Linked DNA regions of Homo sapiens. The protein of the gene in region 1 purifies or fractionates together with the protein of each later gene. This does not show direct contact. Each region holds a gene or a part of one and is shown on either strand. Other genes may lie near its edges.

Evidence for each region.
Region 2: the proteins of KIF24 (region 1) and DOT1L purify together in Homo sapiens (affinity purification with mass spectrometry; one large-scale study listed by BioGRID and IntAct). This does not show direct contact.
Region 3: the proteins of KIF24 (region 1) and PYGB purify together in Homo sapiens (affinity purification with mass spectrometry; one large-scale study listed by BioGRID and IntAct). This does not show direct contact.
Region 4: the proteins of KIF24 (region 1) and WDR47 purify together in Homo sapiens (affinity purification with mass spectrometry; one large-scale study listed by BioGRID and IntAct). This does not show direct contact.

What each region holds. Positions count from the first base shown.
Region 1 is NC_000009.12:34,319,261-34,322,828, forward strand, and holds part of KIF24 (kinesin-like protein KIF24), read right to left. Parts: intron 364-3,568; exon of another isoform or gene 248-363; coding exon of another isoform or gene 180-247; intron 1-179. UniProt on the Homo sapiens protein: Microtubule-dependent motor protein that acts as a negative regulator of ciliogenesis by mediating recruitment of CCP110 to mother centriole in cycling cells, leading to restrict nucleation of cilia at centrioles.
Region 2 is NC_000019.10:2,226,382-2,229,949, reverse strand, and holds part of DOT1L (histone-lysine N-methyltransferase, H3 lysine-79 specific), read right to left. Parts: coding exon 2,823-3,568; intron 2,214-2,822; coding exon of another isoform or gene 1,603-2,213; exon of another isoform or gene 166-1,602; coding exon 158-165; 3' UTR 1-157. UniProt on the Homo sapiens protein: Histone methyltransferase. Methylates 'Lys-79' of histone H3. Nucleosomes are preferred as substrate compared to free histones. Binds to DNA.
Region 3 is NC_000020.11:25,293,052-25,295,833, reverse strand, and holds part of PYGB (glycogen phosphorylase, brain form), read right to left. Parts: intron 1,677-2,782; coding exon 1,542-1,676; intron 1,092-1,541; exon of another isoform or gene 862-1,091; coding exon of another isoform or gene 804-861; intron 231-803; coding exon 164-230; intron 1-163. UniProt on the Homo sapiens protein: Glycogen phosphorylase that regulates glycogen mobilization. Phosphorylase is an important allosteric enzyme in carbohydrate metabolism. Enzymes from different sources differ in their regulatory mechanisms and in their natural substrates.
Region 4 is NC_000001.11:109,032,093-109,035,660, forward strand, and holds part of WDR47 (WD repeat-containing protein 47), read right to left. Parts: intron 1-3,568.

The DNA.
Region 1 (3,568 bases):
AAAGAGCAGCTGAAGATCTGGATGGGGAAGAAGCAGAAGCCTGTCGCCATCTCCTTGCCCAAGCGGGTGGTGGAAGTTCCCATGACCTGCAGAAACTCCTGGCTAGGCTTGGCCTGACTGAGGCCATTGACAAGAACAAGGCAAACTTGTCACGCATGCCACACAAGAAGGACCTGTACCTGACCAGCGTGTTCCACGCCACCGCCTTTGAGTTGGACACAGACGGCAACTCCTTTGACCAGGACATCTATGGGAGCAAGGAGCTGCGCAGCCCCAAGCTGTTCTACTCCGACCACCCCTTCATCTTCCTGGTGTGGGACACCCAGAGCGGCTCCCTGCTGTTCACTGGGCACCTGGTCCGGCCTAAGGTTGACAAGATGCAAGACGAGTTTTAGGGCCTCAGGGTGCACACAGGATGGCAGGAGGCAGCCAAAGGCTTCTGAGACACATGGGTGCTACTGGGATTCGGGGGAGGTGAGGTACCAGCTTGGATACTCCATGGGTGGGGGTGGACAAACAAACCAGGGTTCCCGTGTGCTTGAACGGCCCTTCCCAGCTAGAATTTACTCCACTTGGACGTGGGCCCCAGATACCATGATGCTGAGCCCAGAAACTCCACATCCTGTGGTACCTGGGCCATAATCATCCTGCCTGCCCTCAAAGTCCCAGATCAAGCCTGCCTCAATCAGTGTTCATATTTATAGCCAAGTACCTTCTCACCTGTGAGACCAAATGGAGCTAGGGGGGTCAGCCAGCCCTCTTCTCCTGACACTAAACCACCTCAGCCACCTCCCCAGCTCTATCCCAGTCTCTCCCAACTACAAAACTAGGTGCTGCAGCCCCTGGGACCAGGCATCCCCAGAATGACCTGGCCCCATTGAGGCAGATCGAGAAAGAGCTCACAGGACAGGCTTCTGGGCAGACTCTGGTCAAGAATGGCGTCATGGGGATGAACTTTTTGTTTCTTTTTTAGTTCTTCAAAGATGGGGAGGGAAGGGGGAACATAAGCCTTTGTTACTATCAAACCAAGAACTTATTTATACAGTTTTTCTTTTCAATAAAATGTTCCAACAAAAAAAAAAAAAAAAGAAAAAGAAAAGAAATAGGCTATAACCAGCCAGGCAGGGTGGCTCGTGCCTGTAATCCCAGCACTTTGGGAAGCAGAGGCAAGCGGATCACCTGAGATCAGGGGTTCGAGACCAGCCTGGCCAACATGGCGAAACCCCATCTCTACTAAAAATACAAAAATTAGCTGGGCATGGTGGCGGGCACCTGTAATCCCAGCTACTCGGGAGGCCGAGGCAGGAGAATCTCTTGAACCCAGGAGGCGGAGGTTGCAGTGAGCCAAGATTGCACCACTGCACTTCAGCCTGGGTGACAAGAATCAAACTCCTTCTCAAAAAAAAAAAAAAAAAAAAAAAGGAAAAAAAGAAAAAGGCTATAACCTACAAATAGCTACAGATCTCCCTTGGGAAGGAGGGGAGAGGGGAGGACCTAAACTAATTTTTCTCTTTCCACAAATTTAAGTATGTTTGAATTCAGGTTGCCAAAATGTTACTGAAATGACCTTTATTTTACCTGTACCCCAGGATTTTTGCTCTAGATCTCTTTAGACAGGCTTACCAGGATAATGACCCTTCTCCATGTACTTAGCTATATCTGCATTGTTCAAATGTGTGCTTTTATTTTTATTCACTGTTTTCTTTGTAGTTACGTATTTTATTGTAAGACCTCCCTCCATCCTTCTTAGAAATAGATTAACATAATTATTGACATGTCACTAGATTCAGAAGGTAACTAACACTAAAGCACTGGTATAACACATCAGAGACATCCAATAAACATAGGCCCTTAAACTACCACTGCCACCAAACACATTCTTATTCTGTAGGGAGGGAGATGGAATTGAACAGGGAGCAAAATACCTACATGGTTTATTTTTTCTATTTCAAGATGTTAAATAAGATTTTTATTTCAAATATCTGTCAGTAGACTACCAAAGTGTTTGCGCAGTAGTAACTAGTATAGCAGATTACTAGATTAGGAGGCAAAAAAAAACCGAGGACTCAGTCAGTCTCTGCTAAGAACCAGGTGTGATACATGGTCAAATTATTTAACATCTATGAGTCTCTGCTTCTTCAAGTTTAAAATTGAAATAATGTATACAGGCATTGACAGTAAAATTAGATATGTTAAAGTACTCTCTACAAGTGTACTGATTACGCATTTGCAGGAGACAGGTTCTGTAACGCACCCACTAAGTGTCTGGAACAAAACAGGCACAGTGATCTACCGATAGCATTAAAAAAAAAAAAAAAGCTATACATACATACATACTTCTTCTTTTTTTTTTTTTTTTTTTTAGAGAAAGCGTCTCACTCTGTCGCCCAGGCTGGAGTACAGTGGTGCAATCACGGCTCACTGTAGTCACAAACTCCTGGGCTCAACCAATCCTCCTGCTTCAGTCTCCCAAGTAGCTGGGACTACAGGTGCATGCCACCAAACCTGACTAATTTTTTTATTTTTTGTAGAGATGAGGTCTCCCTATGTTGCCCAGGCTGGTCTGGAACTCCTGGGCTCAAGCGATCCTCTTGCCTCAGCCCCCAAAGTGTTGGGATTACAGGCATGAGCCACTGTGCCTGTCCTACATTATATTTTTGTAAGATTTTTTTAAAAGGAGTCCTACAGCTAGCCAGGTCAACAGAGATAATCTAATCTGTAGCTGATCTAGCCTATAATATTTGGTCCATGAAGGATTATCTTCATATTTTGCAGTCTGGCTTGCAAAGTGTTTAAATTTTTTTTTAATTTGTTGTACTGTTTAAAAAATTAGGAGCAATTAAAAATACCCAGTTCCTGCTTTTCCTGAAAATTAAAAGATGTAGTTATATCGGGCCTGCAATTAGATAAGGAAGTAGTAGACCAAAACAGAGTAGTGGCTGTCCCCTTTAGAAGGGCATATACTCTTCTAATACACCCCATGGTCCTGCCTGCTCCTAGTCCCTTTATAGCAACCAACTTTATTCATTTACATTAAGAAACCCAGTACCCAGTGGTAGTCACTCCCAATTTCCCCCCAACCCATCTAGCCCTAGACAAACACTAATAATGATCACTTTTTTTTTTAAGAGATGAGGTCTCAATGTTGCCCAGGCTGGTCTCAAACTCCTGAGTTCAAGTAATCCTCCTGCCTTGGCCTCCTAAAGTGCTAGGACAGGCATGAGCCACTGCACCCAGCCTAATAATAATCACTTTTAAAGAAGTTGCTAACAAAGTCACTGGGCCCGCTGGACTATTAGAAACTGATACAAGGCCAGGCACTGTGGCTCATGCCTATAATCACAGCACTTGGGGAGGCCAAGGTGGTTGGATCCCTTAAGCCCAGGAGTTTGAGACCAGCCTGGACGACATGGTGAAACTCCATCTCTACAAAAAATATAAAAATTGGCTGGGTGTGGTGATGTATGCCTTTAGTCACAGCTACTTGGGAGGCTGATATTGCGGGGTACTGCTTGAGCCTGGGAGGCGGAGGTTGCAGTGAGCCAAGATTGCGCCACTGCACTCCAGC
Region 2 (3,568 bases), on another chromosome or scaffold:
CTCCTGCGGCGCGTGCCGCCGATTCACAGTGGAGCTCCCGTCCGTCCTTGCCTCTGCCGTCCAGGGGTGGGAGCCCGGCAGGCCGGCGGGCACCATGCCGCGGGCGCGAGTTGGTCCACACCGTCCTTGCATAGGTCTCGCGGTTGAGGTAGAAATCCTAGTTACCTGCAGAAGGGCACAGCGGGAAGAGCGGCCTGAGGTTACCATCGCGCCTGGGGGAGCCCAACACTCACCCAGGCTGGGGACCGAGGCCTCCCACGAGCACACACGCCACCTGGGGCCAGCACCATGACAGGCATAGTGCCAGCTCCTCTAACCACAACAGACGACGGGCGTGCCCCGTGACAGACCAGGGAGCCTGACACCTGGACACGCCGGCCAAGCTCCAGCCTTCCTCCAAAGGAGACACACAGCCGAGTCCAGCTAAAGCCACCCTACCTGCAGCTCATCTCCTAAGAGACCCAGCATAGCTTGTCCAGCCCGCAGGTGCCCGCATTGACCCGCCAGGCTGACCAGCCCTGGCCACAGCCTCCGCCTTGGCTCCTGGCTCCCAGTCCTCCTCTCCTTGCCCGGTGGGCTTTGGACTCGCCCAGGAAGGCCTGTGTCCCAGGGGCCCCTGAGGCAGAAGGCCAGGGGCAAGCAGAGGGCACCTTTGCACTACGCCGCCAGGCACGCCATGTCCCTGGAGGGCACGGGTGGCCAACTGCCCTCAGGGGTCAGCGGCCACAGTCTCCACAGCCTCTTGGGGGAGGAGTGAACAGGACATTCCCTGAAGGCCTCACATCATCAAAATCACTCCTGCTTCCAACTTCCTTCTGGTCTCAAAGGTGGGCACCGTCTACACTAACCTGCCCAGCTTGGTGCTGACATCTGAGCAGCTGAAAGCCCCTCGGCTGTGGGCCATGACCACAGGGCAGTGTGGCCATCAGCCGTGTCCAGCAAGGGGGCCTCAACACGCAGGGCACAGAGCTTGCCTCTCGACCCCGCCGGGAACCCATCAGCCCCCAGGCAGGCAGGGCACTTGGGGCTTCACTGGCTCCCTATGAGGGCATCCGAGGCTACTGGCCAGACAGCCCCGACCAGAGGCATCCAGCCAGCCACCCTGGCTCTCCAGGACCTCTGCAGCCGGCACCGTGCCTGCTACATGCTGGGCGCCTGGGGAACAGCACCAAGCCACGCCACCCGTCATGAGTGACCTGGGCCTGGTGCGGATGGAGCCCTGGAGACTGCTCTAGGAGCTAGAGCTCCCAGCCCCCTGGCCTGGCACCCCGTGAGCCTCGCCCACAGGGGCTGGCACAGCTGCCCCCAGGGCTGGCCTCAGTCCTGCGGCGTCACCGCAGGAACCCAGCTGCGGGCAGCTGGAACCCAACACACTCAGGCCACTCCATGGCTGGTGCCCGTCCTGTAGTCCCTCCTCTCGCGACCATCTCCCTGGTCTCCCTGGCTCTCTCCCTCTTCCCTCCTCAGGACCCCCGGAACTTCTGCCGAGCCCTGTGGCCGTCTTCTCTGCCAAAGGAAGGACAGTTCAGTGTCTGGAGTGAGCCACCGCGCAGGGCTCTGGCCTTACCTTACACAATACGCACTGCTAGCTAAGCAAGGTCTTTATCGCGGCTTAACCCCCGAAAGGTGCGCGGCATAGGGAGGCGGCATGCCGAGGGACACCCACACCGCGGACGGCCCCGTGGCGCTGGCCTGTGGGATCCCGGGCGCGGCCTGGGCCAGGGCCAGCCGGGGCAGGGGCTGGTGGTGCACCGTGAAGGAGGGGCGGGCGCCCTTGTGCGGGAGGGAGGTGAGCTTGATAGACAAAGAGGCGTTAGCAGGCGGCAGAGAGGCAGCAGAGGTGGGGGGCAAGAAAGCTTGGTTAGGCGGGAGGGACGCGAGGCTCTGCAGAAGCGCGGGCTCAGGGTTAGAGGCCAGCAGCGTTGGGGGAGGAGGCAAGGCGGCGTTAGGTGGAGGGGGGGCGTGGAGGACGGGCGGCCCCGCGGGGGACCGGCCCAGGTGCGCAGGCGGGGGCAGCGGGGGAGGCGGAGGCGGAGGCGGAGGGGGCGGCCGGGTCTCAACCGAGGCCGGGGCCTGAAAGGAAGAGGCCGAGGCGCTGGCCGCCGCCTGCAGCGGGCTCGGGCCCAGTGTGGCGCTGCCACATGCAGCCCCGCGGCCGACACGGGCTCCAAACGGATGAGCAGAGGCGGAGGGCACCGCGTGGTTAAAGACACCTGCAAATAGGAGAGAAAAACGCAGCTTCAACAAGCGGCAGCATCCAGGCAAGCGCAGAGCAGCAGCCGCAGGCTCACAAAAAGGGAAGCGAAACGGCGCCGCCAGGCGTGTGCGGGCACCAAGCACAAGCAGCGGCTCGGCCAGGCTCGTGGTGGCCCGCCCTCCGCCCTCCGGCCCCCCGCCCCGCAGCAGCCCCAGGGCCAGGCCGCTCCCCCCGGCGGCTCCTCTCCGCCCTGTCTGGGCAGGCACTGCGGGGACTCGCTCTTACCCAACACCAGCTCCCAGAGCCTTGCCAGAGCCCGGGCGGCCACACCTAGCAGGTGACCTCCACGGGAGAAAGTAATGCTCTGGTGGCCCTGCGCACGGTGGCCTTCTGAAAACAAGAGGGACGCGGTTACAACCAGAGAACCCAAGACACACGGACTCAGCGTGAGCCCTCTCCCCACAGGACTGGAGTTCGCCACCGTGCACGGATGGCGGGGGCCGGCCGGCACCAGGGGACCTGCAGCTCAGCTCCTGCTGCAAGAGAGTGCGGAAGGGAACCTGCAAAGGAAGGGGCCTCCGGCGGGGGCCGGGGCGGGGGGCGGACGGACGGCCGCCCTGCCTACCTCCAACTGTGCCGCCTGCCACCCCGGAAAAGCTGCCCATGGCGTGCGAGTTGGTCAGTCTGGTGGCAGCGGACGACACGTGCACCAGGCCTGCGGCGGCCGGCACAGAGCTGAACAGCGACTGCAGCACGGAGGAGCCGGCCACGGAGCCGAGGTTGGCCTGCAGGGACATGGGGCCGAGCGCGAACTGCGGTCCCGGCGGGAAGGGGCCCAGGAAGGACCGGTGCGTCTGGGCGGAGGACGCCGCGCCGCCTGCGGAGGACGCCGCCGGGGCCAGGCCGGGGCCGCTGAGGAGGCTTCCGGGAGGCACGGCCGCCGCAGAGATGAAGAGGTTGTGGCCATTCTTGAGGTCGACCTCGCGGTCCCGGGCCTTGGCGGCCTTGCCGCTCAGCAGTGGGGTCTTGTCCGTGGGCCCGCACAGCGGTAGGCCGCCCTCCCCTGCCTCCTTGCCGCGGCTGCCCTCGCCCTTCAGCCCAGCCAGGCCGTCCAGCTGCCTCTTGCTCAGGAAAGGGTTGGCGTCCGAGCCCTCCTTGCCGCGCTGCGAGGGGAAGCTCAGCGGGGAGCTCAGGCCGGCCGCCTCGGGGCCCTTGTGGGGAAGAGAAGCACCATCACTGAAGCTGTGTAAACTCAGGTCCGCGGCCAGGCCCCCGCCGAAGGTGCAGCCGTTGGCAGGGTTGGTGCCCGGGCTGAGTCCGTCAGCCCCCGACAGGGAGCCGGGAAAGCCTTTCCTGGGGTGAGCGGCCAGC
Region 3 (2,782 bases), on another chromosome or scaffold:
CTTCCCTAAAGGCAGGCACAGCCGACTGATGACAGATCAGAATCACAAACCCCTCTGGCCCAGGCCAAGAATCTACTCAGCTTGGGAAATAAACAATCTGACCCAACACGTCTACATGGACCCACCCAGCTGCTCCCCTAGCCTCTGGACCCAGGAGCCTCACCCGGTACAGCTGGTCCACCTGTGCCTGGCACTGCATGTAGGCTTCATAGTCTGCAAACACCTTGAACCTGGAATGGGAGAAAGGAGGCTGGGCCAGGGCAGCAGGGAGCCCTGCCCACACTGTCCCGAGGGGAGAGTCCCAGGGCAGGAGGCCAGGCACCATCCACCTGGTCCTGTCTGGAGCGAAGGGGCCCACCCACGCAGCTGGTCAGAGCCAGGCTGCACCAGGCCCATTTGGCCACAGGGCTTCTCTGTGAGCAACACTTATGTCCTGGGACAATATTTTAGAAAAACCTTATTTCAACCCAACACTCCTTTAAATAAACTGGCATTTAAAACGTGTCTTCCACACGCAGGGCAGTTAGAGCTGCACATGGGAGAGGCCTCCTGGGCAGACAGTGGAGAGCCCATGGCGCCGCCTCAGGGCAGGGGGCACTTGCTGGGGAACGGCATCTCCATTTGCCGTCTTAAGTCTAACTGGGATTTGCCTACACAGGAAATACTGACTTGCAGTTCCTGATGTGCTGAACAAAAATGCCAGATTTATGAATCTACAAATGCATTTCTGTTCACTATCGAGTCAGAAGCACACTTCACGAAATGCAGAGTTCACAATTTTAAAAGCACTTCCTTTATCACAGACCTCAGCAGGGCCCAGGTTCCAGCCCAGATCCCAGCATGTGGTCAGAGCTGGTGTGACTGAAGCCAACAGGTGACACGGTCATCGAAGAGCAGCAGACAAAACTAAAACTAACCCAAAGGCAGCTGAAAGTGGAGGGCAGGTGAATTCCCAGCCCTCGCCGGATTCAACTTTTGCCAACGGTGAAGAACTGCCCTGAGCTGCAAACCTTACAAAGTCTGTAACTCTAGATAAACCATACCATGTGCTAACTGCACTGAAATAAAACACTAACTACATTATAATGTCACATCGTTGCAAGTGAAATCCATTTTCACCACTGCCTGTCACTGGCACTGACGCCTGCCGCGGTTCCGCAGCCCTTGTGCGCCCCCTACCCCACCCCAGGGAGTTTTGGGCCCATGCTCCCTCTACTGGCCTGCTGGGACACGGCTGCCCCTGGGACCTCCAACCAGCAGAGGACACCCCCTCCTGCTCAGCACATTGGTCCACAAGGCCTGGGGGCTGGACTGTGCTGCTGTGTCTCGCTGCCCAGGGCCCCCTGGCATTGCCAGAGGCCATCGCAAACTCCCAGCTGGGGTCTAAGGCTCTGCCCAGTAAGGTCTCATGGGCACAGTGGAGAAGACGTCCTGAAAGCACGGGTTTTGCTCTCCAAACAAGGTGGAATATCCAACCCACGAAGAGGACCCCTCCCTCCCTCCCTCCCTCCCAGCCACCCAACCAGGGAAGTCGGTCCCACCTGTCATGGTGCATCAGCATGTTCACGATGTCCTTGAAGCAGTCTGGCTCCTTGGGAGAAAAAAAGCCACTGCTGATCTGGTCCACGGCCTGCTTCAGCTCGGGCAGGTGGTCGTAGTACTCCCTGGCATTGTACCTGTGAGGCGATGGGCCAGGAGTCAGCAGCCAGCGCCCCAGGTGGGCCACCTTGGAGAACAAGCCATGTTGGTGCCTGGCACAGCCCCTGCCCCAGGATGGCCCTGGGAGCTCAAGGCCTGCACGGTCCAGGGCAGCAGCCAGTGGCCATGGGTGGTTACGAGGCCCTTGAGCAGGGACCTGCTCGAGCAGAGATGTGAAGTCAGTCTAAAGCCAATCCCACCTGCTCCTTTGACTGTTAAAGAAATGTCATCACTAGCAGATCTGCTAGGACATAGTGGCTGATGCCACATTCCTAGTGGAGAGGGCCACTCAGAACTTGGCTCACTGTGAAATCCTGGGCAGAGCTTTTGAAAAACAGACGGCCGGAGGGGCAGGAAGTGAAATGGAGCACCTTGGCTGGGACCTCGAAGATGGAAAAGGAAAAACGCAAGCAAGACCAGACAGGACAAGGCAGAGCTAAGTGGGAGAGGGACGGACGGGCAGACATGGGCATCCCAGGACGGGGCCCGGGCAGAAGAAGCTGTGTGAGGGCGCAGAAAGGGAGCACAGGCCTCTGTGCTCGGGCCAGCAAGGCACAGCTCTGACTTCAGATGGCATGTGTGGTTTCACCTGACCCTACTTAAGGCCTCACAGGCTCCCCAGTGCTTCAAGGCAATCAGGCAACACTGCCTTTTCTTTGTAATTATCGCTTGGAATCAGGCCCGTGCTGGATTCCTCATGACGTCCAGATCATGAAGAACAAGGAAAAACTGAGAAGCTGTCACAGACCAAATGACACTGGGGAGACCTGACGGCCACACACAGTGGAGTGCCCTGATGGGATCCTGGGATGGGAAAGACAGTAACAGAACCCCGGTGGAGTTGGAATGGAGTGTGGGCTGCAGGAGGGCCAGTGCTCTGAGCTCAGTGCAGCCAACGGAGGGGCGCGGGGATAAGGTGGATGAAGCTCTGGGTGCTGTCTTCAGGATTCCCTCCTCCCCTCTGCCACCCCCCAACCCCCCCATCCCCCCCACTCCCCCACCCCCCCCGACCCTGGCCTACACATTTAAAATGTTTCCAAAATACTATTTTTAAACAATTTTAACAGTTACAACTTAGACCAGG
Region 4 (3,568 bases), on another chromosome or scaffold:
CCTGGCCTCAATCTTTCTTTATGAGACTAAGGACTAAGGTATGTGTGTTCTTTCCATATTCAAACCCAGAAATTTTTAAACAAGTATGTTTAAAATTACTGAAGTACTAACAATTCACATGATAAAAACGATTTTCTGGCCAGGCGCAGTGGCTCATGCCTGTAATCCCAGCACTTTGGGAGGCGGAGGCGGGTGGATCTCGAGGTCAGATCGAGACCATCCTGGCTAACACGGTGAAACCCCGTCTCTACTAAAAATACAGAAGATTAGCCAGGCGTGGTGACGGGCGCCTGTAGTCCCAGCTACTCGGGAGGCTGAGGCAGGAGAATGGCATGAACCCGGGAGGTGGAGCTTGCAGTGAGCTGAGATCGCAGCACTGCACTCCAGCTTGGGCGACAGAGCGAGACTGTCTCAAAAAAAAAAAAAAAAGATTTTCTTACTCAAGCTGCTCAATTAAGTCATGTAATGCAGAAAAGGTAAAGAAAAAAAATTGTCAACTTTGACACTAAAAATGTAAAATGTAGACCAGGCATGGTGGCTCACACCTGTAATCCCAGCACTTTGGGAGGCCAGGTGGGCGGATCACTTGAGGTCAGGAGTTCAAGACCAGCCTGGCCAACGTGGCAAAACCCTGTCTCTACTAAAAATACATAAATTAACCAGGCATGGTGGCATGTGCCTATAATCCCAGCTATTCAGGAGGCTGAGGCAGGAATATTGCTTGAACCCGGGAGGTGGAGGTTGCAGTGAGCTGAGATTGCACCACTGCACTCCAGCCTGGGTGACAGAGTGACACTCTGTCCAAAAAAAAAAATTACAAAACGTAAATCTTCCATTCAACAGAAACTTGCCACAAACAATTATGTTAAAAGACAAGGCACAAAGTAGGACTAAGTAAAACACACATAAAGAGTTAAATGGGGCTGGGCGCAGTGGCTCACACCTGTAATCCCAGCACATTGGGAGGCCAAGGCAGGTGGATCATGAGGTCAGGAGTTCAAGACCAGCCTGGCCAAGATGGTGAAACCCCGTCTCTACTAAAAATACAAAAATTAGCTGGGCACAGTGGCAGGCACCTGTAATCCCAGGTACTCGGGAGGCTGAGGCAGGAGAATCACTTGAACCCAGGGGGGCAGAGGTGGCAGTGAGTCGAGATCACGCCACTACACTCCAGCTTGGGCGACAGAATGAGACTCTGCCTCAAAAGGAAAAACAAAAACAAAAAAAAGCTAAATGGTTATTATCTGGAGCATATAAATAGCATCTTCAAATCAATACCCTCAAAATTCCAGACGAAAAATGAGCAAAAAATATAGACAATTCACAAAAGAACTATGAATACCAATATATTTGTGAAAAGATGCTCAACCTCAATAATAGTTTTATAACAAGGTACCAACATGCTCACTTCCACACACAGTAAAATGAGTTACCCATTTACGGCCTACCAGTTTTGAAAAAGAAAAAAGAAGACCCGATAATATCTAGTTTTGGCAAGAGTGTGGGCAAATGCCTTCATATACTGTTGTTAAGAATGTAAACTGGGGACCAGATGTGGTGGCTCATGCCTGTAATCCCAGCACTCTGGGAGGCCAAGGCGGGCAGATCACAAGGTCAGGAGATGGAGACCATTCTGGCCAACATGGTAAAACCCTGTCTCTACTAAAAACACAAAAATTAGCTGGACGTGATGGCACATGCCTGTAATCCCAGCTACTCAGGAGGCTGAGGCAGGAGAATTGCTTGAACCAGGGAGTCGGAGGTTGCAGTGAGCCGAGATCCGTGCCACTGCACTCCAGCCTGGCAACAGAGTGAGACTCTGTGTCAAAAAAATAAAAGTAAAAGAAGAATGTAAACTGGGACTGACTTTTTGAGAGAATTTGACAGCATGAAATTTTTACCTACAAAAATGTTGGTGAAGCATGATGGCTCATGCCAGTAATCCCAGTATTTTGGGAGGCCGAAGTGGGTGGATCACCTGAGGTCAGGAGTTTGAGATCAGCCTGACCAACATGGTGAAACCCCATCTCTACTAAAAATACAAAATTAGCCAGGCGTCGTGGCACATGCCTGGAATCCCAGCTACTTGGGAGGCTGAGGCAGTAGAATCACCTGAACCCAGGAGGCGGAGGTTGCAGTGAGCTGGGATCACGCCATTGCCCTCTGGCCTAGGCAACAAAAGTGAAACTCCATCTCAAATAAATAAACTTAAATGTAGACTACCCAATTCCAATTCTTATAGAAACCTAGCCTGCAAAAATACTTGCAAATAAAAAATGTTCCCTGAAAATTTATTTGTAATAGAGAAAAATTAGAAATAAACTGAACTGTCCTTAATAGCAGAATTGGTAAATAAATTATGGTAAATTCATACTATAAAACAGGGGTCCCCAACCCCCAGGACACAGACCAATACTGATCCACAGCCTGTTAGGAACTGAGCTGCACAGCAGGAGGTGAGCTGCAGACAAGGGAGCATTACTGTCTGAGTCCCGCTCCTGTTAGATCAGCAGTGGCATTAGATTCTCATAGGAGCACGGACCCTACATATGAGGGATCTAAACTGCAGTCTCCTTATGTGAATCTAATGCCTGTTGATCTGAGGTAGAATGGTTTCCACCTCACCCCTGGTCTGTGGAAAAATTTTCTTCTAGGAAGACAGTAAACCAACCAGTACCTGGTGCCAAAAGGGCTGAGGACTGTTGCTATAGAATACTAACACAGTGACGTATATCTATATATCCTAAAAAGGAAAAGTGCATCACAGAATAGTACAGCTATCAATAAATATTTGTTGAATGAATGAATATAAACAGGCCCATTTATTTAAAAGGAGAGAGGCATAATATCTCTGTGTCTAAATAAATATACAAAGGTCTGAGACCGGGCACAGTGGCTCATGCCTATAACCCCAGCACTTGGGAGGCTGAGATCGGAGGATAGCTTGAGCTCAGGAGTTCAAGGCAACATGGCGAAACCCTGTCTCTCCAAAAAAAAAAAACAATTAGCCAGGCGTGGTGGTGCAGGCCTGAGGTCCCAGCTACTCAGGAGGCTGAGGTGGGAGAATTGTTTGAGTCTGGGTGGTTGAGGCTGCAGTGAGCCAACATTGCACTACTGCACTCCAGCCTGGGCAAAAGAGTAAGACCCTGTCTCAGAAAAAAAAAAAAAAAAAAACCCCACACACACAAGGTCTGGAATGTTGCATGCCAAACTGTTCAGTGTGATTATCTCTGAAGAAAGGCATGGGATTGGGATGGAGGGCAGGGATCTAGGAGAAGAAAAGGGTTGAAGGAGACTTTTTTATTTTTTACTCTTTGCAGTTTATCTGAAGAGTTAACAACCAATATATATTCATGCATTACTTGTATGTTAATACATGCATTTCTCATATGAATACAATTTTTAAATTTTTTTTTTTTTTTTGAGACGGAGTCTTACTCTGTCGCCCAGGCTGGAGTGCAGTGGCGCAATCTTGGCTCATTGCAATCTCTGCCTCCTGGGCTCTAGTGATTCTCCTGCCTTGGCCTCCCGAGTAGCTGGGATTACAGGCGCCCACCACCACACCCAG